Regions from separate parts of the Homo sapiens genome. Here regions 1 and 2 are each linked to region 3. The links come from fine-mapping of genetic effects on gene expression. A gene starts in region 3. Each other region holds a variant in brackets. All regions are shown on one strand. Distances are from middle to middle.

Evidence for each region.
Region 1: its variant is fine-mapped to the expression of IGFBP3 in whole blood (TOPMed, PIP above 0.99).
Region 2: its variant is fine-mapped to the expression of IGFBP3 in whole blood (INTERVAL, PIP 0.99).

Annotation. Positions count from the first base shown.
Region 1 is chr7:46,008,307-46,011,071 of GRCh38, forward strand. The region is part of intron 1 of LOC105375264 (a long non-coding RNA gene); the gene reads right to left. Among named protein-coding and RNA genes, the nearest start is that of IGFBP3, 88 kb to the left of the region's middle. The variant G/T (reference allele first, on the strand shown) is at 1,562.
Region 2 is chr7:45,943,699-45,946,463 of GRCh38, forward strand. The region is part of intron 1 of LOC102723446 (a long non-coding RNA gene); the gene reads left to right. Among named protein-coding and RNA genes, the nearest start is that of IGFBP3, 24 kb to the left of the region's middle. The variant A/G (reference allele first, on the strand shown) is at 1,408.
Region 3 is chr7:45,919,842-45,922,599 of GRCh38, forward strand. IGFBP3 (insulin like growth factor binding protein 3) reads right to left here and starts at 1,431. Exons shown (of 5, transcript NM_000598.5): 1 at 897-1,431. The coding sequence starts at 1,299. RefSeq lists enhancers at 1,234-1,814, 1,815-2,395.

The DNA of each region.
Region 1 (2,765 bases), 88 kb after region 3:
TTAAACCTTTTCCCAGCTCTACATGGGACATGCTTTGTCTCTGGGGTCAGTGGGGTTGTTGAAAATAAAGACTGTGATATTATGAGTGATGTGCTGCTGTGGGAGAGGATGGATCTCAGTAGCAAGAACTACCCCCCCCAGTGACACCTCATGTCATCATCCTGGACCGCTGGTGTAGAGTCATTGAATTTTGTGTGATGTTAACATGGATGGCTCAGATCAGTAACACAGAGGCAAGGAAAGAGGTACCATGAATGGGAACAGTTCGGGGAAGCTTTATCAACCTCTCCAGACCTTATTTCTCCATCTAAGTGAAGGAAGAGTGTGATGTGAAGATGTCATGTGTCAGGTGCCAGCTCTAGTGCCAGTCATGTGTCAGTGCCCAGCTGAGGCTCACTCTTCCTCCCTTTTCTTGCTTCTCAGCTTCCAGCCTAGAATCCTTGTTCTGCATGCTGGGAGAGAGCACCAACTTTGGAGTCCCCCAGCCCTGAGTGTGACTATGGGTTCTTGCTTTTCATGAGTGTTTTCGGGCAAATTTTTTCACATTTCTAGGCCTCAGTTTCTTCTTCTGTAAAAAAGGAAAAGCACTTATGTCATTGTGTTGTTTTGAGGATAGAAAAATACTGTGAAGCATTTAGTATGTTTCGAGCACATTGTATGCACTCAATTCATGGTCACTATTATTTTATTTACAAATATAATATAAATATAAATATAATAAAATGCTTCCCAACTAGTCCGCAAAAGAAGACTGCCTGAAACGTATTGATATTTTTCTTTTTGATTTCTGGAGCTGTCATATGCCAAATGCTCTTGGGATGCAGAATTCTATTTTTCTGGAAATGAAGTCATGGGTCGAATGATTGGCAAAGAAAGTCATATTACATTTTGTTTTTTATTCTCACAAAGTATGAAGTGGATCATTGGCAACCTTAATTTAAAATAGTGCTAAATAGAAAGTATATGTAACAGTACTTATTTATTCTGGAACTTTAAAACTATAGTGAAAAATTTTCTAGACCAGGAGTCAGCACACTTTTTCTGAAAAGGACCAGATGGTATATATTTTAAGCTTTGCAGGCCTTCCTGTCTCTGTCACAACTACTCAACTCTGCTGTTTAGTGCAAAAGCAGCTGTGAACAATATAGAAATGATGAGTGTAGCTACGTACCAGTAAAGCTTGAGTGGTGTGACATTGACTTGTCAGATTCCCCCTCTATATCTTGCTTTCCTCATTACAAAAGGAGCGTCAGTCTGAGGATGCTAAACAATGTACTTAAATGTACCTAGCACAGTGTCAGGCATGAACTAATGGAGCTCACTCTGGCCTTTTATGCCATGGGTCCACAGTCCATGTGCTGTTCATGGTTAATTTAATTTTGGAGTGGTGAAGGAATTTCGTGATCTATCTATTTGTAGCAACTGGGGTGCTGTGTTGAGAACGATTCTGGGACTGTCTGGGCTTGGCTGAAAAGTATGCGGTGACGTCCATTCCTAGACTAGGCAGTGTTTCTTCTTTTCTTGTTATGTTCCCTGTATTTCAGCCATTTTTTTCTTCTGG[G/T]TTCTTCAGTCTGGTTTTTTTTTTTTTTTTTTTTTTTTTTTTTGCAATCTCATATCACCCCTTACCTTCACTCACAGTGGGAAGTGGGTATGTCTATAGTTCTGGGTTGGAGAGGAGTTGTTGACATGACTATTTCTTTAAAATTTTCTATGGTTTAAACTCTAATTTTAATCTGATGATTAAGCAAAATGTACATTTTAATTGATTAATGTTTTCTTAAGGTATAGGATAAAAGTATTTCCACGTCTGTCTGTCTTTCTTTCTGTCTGTCTGTCTTTTCTTTCTTTCTTTCTTTCTTTCTTTCTTTCTTTCTTTCTTTCTTTCCTTTCTTTCTTTTCTTTCTGTTTCTTTCTCCCTTCCTCCCTTCCTTCCTTCCTTCTTTCTTTCTTTTTCTTTTTGAGATGGAGTCTCCCTCTGTTGCCTAGGCTGGAGTTCAATGGCATGATCTTGGCTCACTGCAACCTCTGCCTCCCAGGTTCAAGCGATTGTCCTGCCTCTGCCTCCCAAGTAGCTAGGATTACAGGTGTGGGCCACCATGCTACAGGCTAATTTTTGTATTTTTAGTTGGCCTGGCTGATCTTGAACTCCTAACCTCAGGTGATCTGCCTGCCCTTGGCCTCCCAAAGTGCTAAGATTACAGGCATGAGCCACCGTGCCTGACCTCTACATGTATGTTTTATGTGTGAGATGTTGTCAGTCTTAATTTAGGAAAAATCCTTTTTAATTTTCTAAGGTTTATTTTTTCTTTTTTTATACCCCAGGATTGTCATATAAATCTGTCTTCTGCAGTGGAATGCAGAAGAGGAGATTACAGTTCTGAAGCATCATTGTCCACACCTTTCTCTTGCTGCCCTCCCAGCTGGAGGTGGACACCACCCCTGCAGCGCAGAGCAGGGAGGCTGGCCCAGTACTGCAGGGGCTTCATGTGCAGGCTGATTCCTTTCCTGTGTTTGCAAAGTTGGAGGCAGTCCACAAGGCAGCTTTCTGCACCATCTGCAGAATTTATAGGTTCTTAAGGTCACCCTCAGGTTTGATAATTTGCTAGGTGAGTTCTTACAGAACTCACTGAAAACTGTTATACTCATGGTTATGGTTTATTTGAGTGAAAGTATACAGATTACCATCGGCCAAGGGGGAGATGCAGAGCGGAGTTGAGAGCTTTCCAGACGTGGAGCTTCTAGTTGTCCTTATGGTGGAGTATGGA
Region 2 (2,765 bases), 24 kb after region 3:
GTTTAGCAAATCATTTATCATTATAAAACAACTGTATTCATCTCGAGTAATTCTTTGGCCTTCTTTAGAATTCTTTGCATCTATTCTCTTCTGATGTTAAATAGAACTACCCCAACTTTCTTTTGGTTAGTTATGTATGCTATCTACACAGTTATTTACTCTTACAGCTTTCAATATGTACCCAGCAAATTTAAGCGTGTCTCCTTCGCACACCACAGCATTAGATTTTGATATTTAAATCTAGTGATTGATATTTCACTCAAACATCCAGTCTACTTACCATTACTGTACTTACTAATATATTACGGGGTAAACCAACCATCTAATTATGTGTTTTCTATTTGTCTGGTTTTATGCCTTTTCTCTTTCTTGCCTTCTTTTTTGGGTTGATTATTTTTTTCTTTGCTCACAGTAACACTCACTCTTTTTGGTGTACAGTTACATGAGATTGGCGAATGCATGCACTTATGTAACCACAAGGCAGCGTCATCGCAAAACTCTCCCCTGCGCTGCCCATTTGCACTCAGTTATCTCATCTCCACTCTCTGGCAACAACCAATGTGTTTGTGTTCCTCTAATTTTGAATTTTCCAGAATGTCATATAAATCAAATCATAGTTGAGCATGGTTTCTGTCAGTTATAACGATGTGTTTGAAATTCATTCATGGTGTGTGTGTGTGTAATAATAATCCATTCCTTTTTATTGCCAAAGAGTATCGGCCAATAACATTAACTTTGGATGCACCACAGCTTTTTTACTCAGTTGCAAGTTAAAGAACATTCAGTTGTCTAAGCTATATTCCAGGACCAGGCACACCCTGAGGGGATATCTTGGAGAAAAAATAATGGGGAAAATAGGGGACTCCCATGTACACTCGTTTAGCCTCAGGAGCCCTTTTCTTGGTTTCTCAGGCCTAACACACAGAATCCATGAATTCTTAACCACCAATGTTGAACAGTCTATGATTAGGACTGCCTTTGGATCCATGTTGTAAGAGAAAAGAGAAAAAACAAAACTAGAAAACACCTCCTTTTAGGCTACTTTTCCGTGTTTTGACTCTCCCCACAATTGTTGACTTTTGTTTACTAGATATTTTAGTTGTAATCAGTGATTTTTGTAGCTGTAGAGGTCTAATCCTAGCTAGAAGGAGCTTTCCTAGTTGATTAATTTTATGATTTTATAATGCTTTTTCCTGGTAGTTTTGAAGTGTTTTTTTTTTTTTTTAGTCATCCTGTAGTATTTCCTAGAAATTACAATAAGCCTTCTTAATTTATAAAATTCAAATATTAATTGATAATTGTACTCTAGTCCTGTGAAGCAAAAGCACACTCAGACATTTCAGTTCTATTTGTCCCTTTCCTGATTTCTATGCTCTCGTTGTCATATATTTTAATTTCACCTGTATA[A/G]TCTACATCCTAAAAATGTTAGTGTTCTTGTTTTAATACAGTGTTCATTTCAATATAGTCTCACAATTCTTTTGATCCCTTTCTGCATCTTCAATTTTTCATCTGTGATAATGCTCCTTCTGCCTGAAGTACATACTTTTTTACATTTTTTAGTGTTCTATTCTATTGTATTTAGTATTCTATTCTAATAAATAACTTATTTCAGTTTTTGTTCATCTGAAAACTTCATGTTACCTTATTTTTTACCAACCAGCCAAGTGTCCTGTATAAAATGAAAAACATGCATTGATTGTAGTAGTTTCTGGCTAATGTTATATAGAATAATTAAGATTACTTTATTTTTTCTGTGGAATAAGCCTCATATTTTTGATCCTTTAAATTGAATTGCAAGAGCCAGATGATGTGATCTATCTATTTCTTTTTTGTAATATATTAATATATCAAATTATTTAAGCAATCTCAGTTTCTTTTCTTTTGCCTTTTCACTTTGGTTCATTTCATAAAATAGGTGTTATTTTCAGTTTTGCTGGTACAAAGTTAATTCATGATTGCTTTATGTTTTTTGCACCACGTCATTTTCAACATTTATTCATTTCCCATCATTTATATGCTGCAAAGTGTTATCACTAACAATGTATTTTTCTGTTTGCTTGCTCTTAAATGTGTAGACTTCTAGTTAGGTGTGGTGTTTTTTACATGAACAGTGAATAATGACTTTATAGGTTTCCTCATCATTCTCTTCGAATACCATTGTGGATCCTAAGGTTCAAGTCTTGATGCCAGTTTAGTGAGGGGAGGGAGGGAACTAAAGCTTTGATTAATTTTTGGAAAGGAAATTTGCTTCTCTGTCTGTGTCTTTTCTCCTCTGGGTTTGGCAAATCTCATTTTTTTTTTTTAGTACCAGTCTTGACATGGCTGAGTCCCATTCCTGGTGGAGGGTGGAGAAGCATATTCCTTTTTCTCTTTGGAGAGGAGCTAACTCCCCACCTTGCCTGTTGCCTTCTCCTGCTGTTTGCATAAATGAAGAACTCTTGCAGTCCTGGGAAACTGTCCTGGGAGACAAAGTCCCATAGACCTGAGCCTTTTCATCACTACCCACAGATTCCACTGCAATGGCCGTCAAAGCCATCTGAGATGTAATTTTCATTTTCTCCTCTACCCTCCAGTTTGGGGGTGCATTGGAGTCTCAGATCTTCATTCGTATCCTTTGGGTCCATACTGCTTCTTCAGTGTGGTGAAGTTTCGAAAAGTTCCAAGAGTTCTTAATAAACCTGGTCCCATTTTCACTGTTCCTAATAAAAATTCTTTTGAGTTTTGGAATTTTTTGGCTTCCAGTCTTAACATTTCAGTTTGCACAT
Region 3 (2,758 bases):
TGGCTAAGCCAAGAGGGTAACTCTGCCAAATGTTTGCATTTTTCCTCTTCTGGGGCTCCCCTTAACAACATCTCATTCCCCCCCCCATTTCAGATTAAGAAGGGAGACAGCCCTAGGACTGATTCCAATTCCCTTCCGTGTCATTGAAATTGACTTAGTCCACATTGCCCGCACCCACCACGCACCTGGAAGTTTGTTTGAGGTCGGCGCAGGTGCAGGGGTGGCCCGAGTTGTAAGAATGGTATGGTACTGAAAGTGGCACGCGGAGTTCAAACCTACACTCTGTTGTGGCCGCTGGGTAACCTTAAGAAGTTACTTCTTTTTCAGCTTCAGGTTTTCCAACCGCAGAAGATATCAAAACCCGAATCCACTTTACTTGTTTTTGGACATACCGGGACTAGACATTGCTTTGCAAACCAAAAGGCTGTGCAAAGTCAGTATTTTAAAAGAGAGGTACTATTTCCTACAACGTGCCTGCCCACCTTCCTTGGTCCAAATCCGCCTATATCCCCCCCATCCCCAAGCATCCCTGGGATTGCAGTCCGTGTGCACCCCCGTGCGGGGCGAGGAGAATCTCCTGTGTCCAGGATCTTTCCAACAGCTAAACATCGGTACCGCTCCCCTCAGCTCCGGAAACCTTTAACCCATTTTCACTGAAAGCGCTTTGCAATTTACAAGTACTCTGCACTTAGAGAATCGAGCAAGTAGAGGGCCGGCTGGGGAGGGTCCCTCCGGCGACCGCCTTCACCTTTCCCGGAGCGCCTTCAGTTTCCCCACATATTATCTCCAGTGAGAAGAAAAGCGGAGTCTCCCGCAGCGGCACCCAGCAACCCCCAGGCCCTTCGGCGCCAGTGCGCCGGGTGCTGCACGCAGCGCACCTGGCGCGGGCGGCTCACCTGGAGCTGGCGGCGCTGGCAGCAGGTAGGCGCGCAGGCGGCTGACGGCACTAGCGTTGACGCAGAGCCCGCGGCCGTCCAGCAGCGCCTGCAGCGGTCGCGCCTCGTCGGGCGACGGCTGGCAGCGAAGGCCGGAGCCACAGCGCTCGGTGTAGATGCCGCACGGCTGGCCCTCGCTCAGTGCGCACGTCAGGCAGCAGCCGCAGCCCGGCTCGCGCACCAGCTCCGCGCACACGGCGGGCGGAGGCGCGCACTGGGCCAGTGCACGCGCGTCGCACGGCTCGCAGCGCACCACGGGACCCAAGCCCGCCGAGCTCGCGCCAGCCCGCGCCACCGGCGGCCCGCGGAGCAGCACCAGCAGAGTCAGCGCAGCGGCCCAGAGCGTGGGTCGCGCCCGCTGCATGACGCCTGCAACCGGGGCACGCTGCTTGGCAGGCTGGGCGCGCAGGGATGGGGCGACAGTACACGGCGCGAAGCTGTGGAATCCAGGCAGGAAGCGGCTGATCCTCAGCGCCCAGCCGCAGTGCTCGCATCTGGGCGGCCCGGGCGCGCCGGCCGCTATATAGAAGCCGGGGTGGCCCAGGACACGCCCCGGAACGGCGCGCCCAGGAGTGGGGGTTGGGAGGGGGGCGGGTCGGCGCAGGCACGGCTGCGGGGGCCCGTGCTTCGCCCTGAGCAGCCGGGGCCGAGCTCGGGGGCGTGCAGCTCGAGACTCGCCCGGGCACCTGCTCCTCGTGCGCACGCCCGGAGCCCGGGTCACCTTGTCGTCTACAAGAACCAAGGTGTGCCCGGCCACCCCGGCACTCCAGGCCACCTCAGCACCCCCGGTCACCCCAGTCACTCCTGGCCAACTCAGCACCCCCGATCTCCTTGACCCCGCCGCCCTTACCCCTTCCGCTCTCGGGGTGAGGTCTCCCTGCGGCGAGCCGGTGTCGGGGAAACTGGCATACAGCGCTCCGCATTCGTGTGTACCTCGTGGAGCTTTCTAAAATTTAATTCCGTTGGCAGGCGAAGTCTTGGGACATTTCTGACTTACATTTGGGTCTCAGGGAGCCAAGGCACTGCGGGGTTTAATTTACACCCGCTGGGCTGTTTATATCCCCAGGGGCCCACAAATACGCATCTGAAGATGCGCCCGGGGCCTTCGCCCCTTTCCAGGCTTACTTCTCAACGCAAGAAGACTCTCACGTGTTGCTACACCGCAAGTCTCCAATTAAGAGTGGACCGGCAAGCGAATGCGTCCTTAAGGCAGGGCTTTTCAAATATTTTAAATGACAACTGTTCTTCTTGTCTTGGGTATTCTCCCTGATTATGTTTTCAAATGGAGTTTACACCCATGACAAAAGAATAATAAAGACAATAAACTGGGCACTGCTGAAACGTAATTAACCAAATAGTCCTTTAATAGGCAATTTTCATTGTCATTTTTTGAAGGCGACTTCGTATTACTGTATTCTCGATGCGTTGGGATTCTAGCTTATCTCTGCAATCTAAACACTTTTCAGTAAAGTTCGGGGGCGCAATTGCGCGCTGAGGTCGCTGTAACTCCTGTCGGCCTTCTCTGGCACTCGAGTTTCTTCAGTTTTGTCTGCGCACCCCCTCCCTTCGGTGACCAACAGAGGACGCTGGTGGTCCAGGATTGGATTGAGGATTAAATTTTTCAAGGCACTTTTCCAAAGAGTTTGTGGGGGTGGAGTGGGAAGCGGTGAGACCTCCGCGGGAGGAGACTTTCCTGAACGCTGTTGAAATTGGACGCTTGCCTTAGGAGGTGGATAGGTGACTTGAAGGAGCCCTTTGCAGTTTGGAGTAGTAATAGCAAATCAGGAGCTCCTCCATTCCCCTCCAGCACGAAGCCTTGGGTG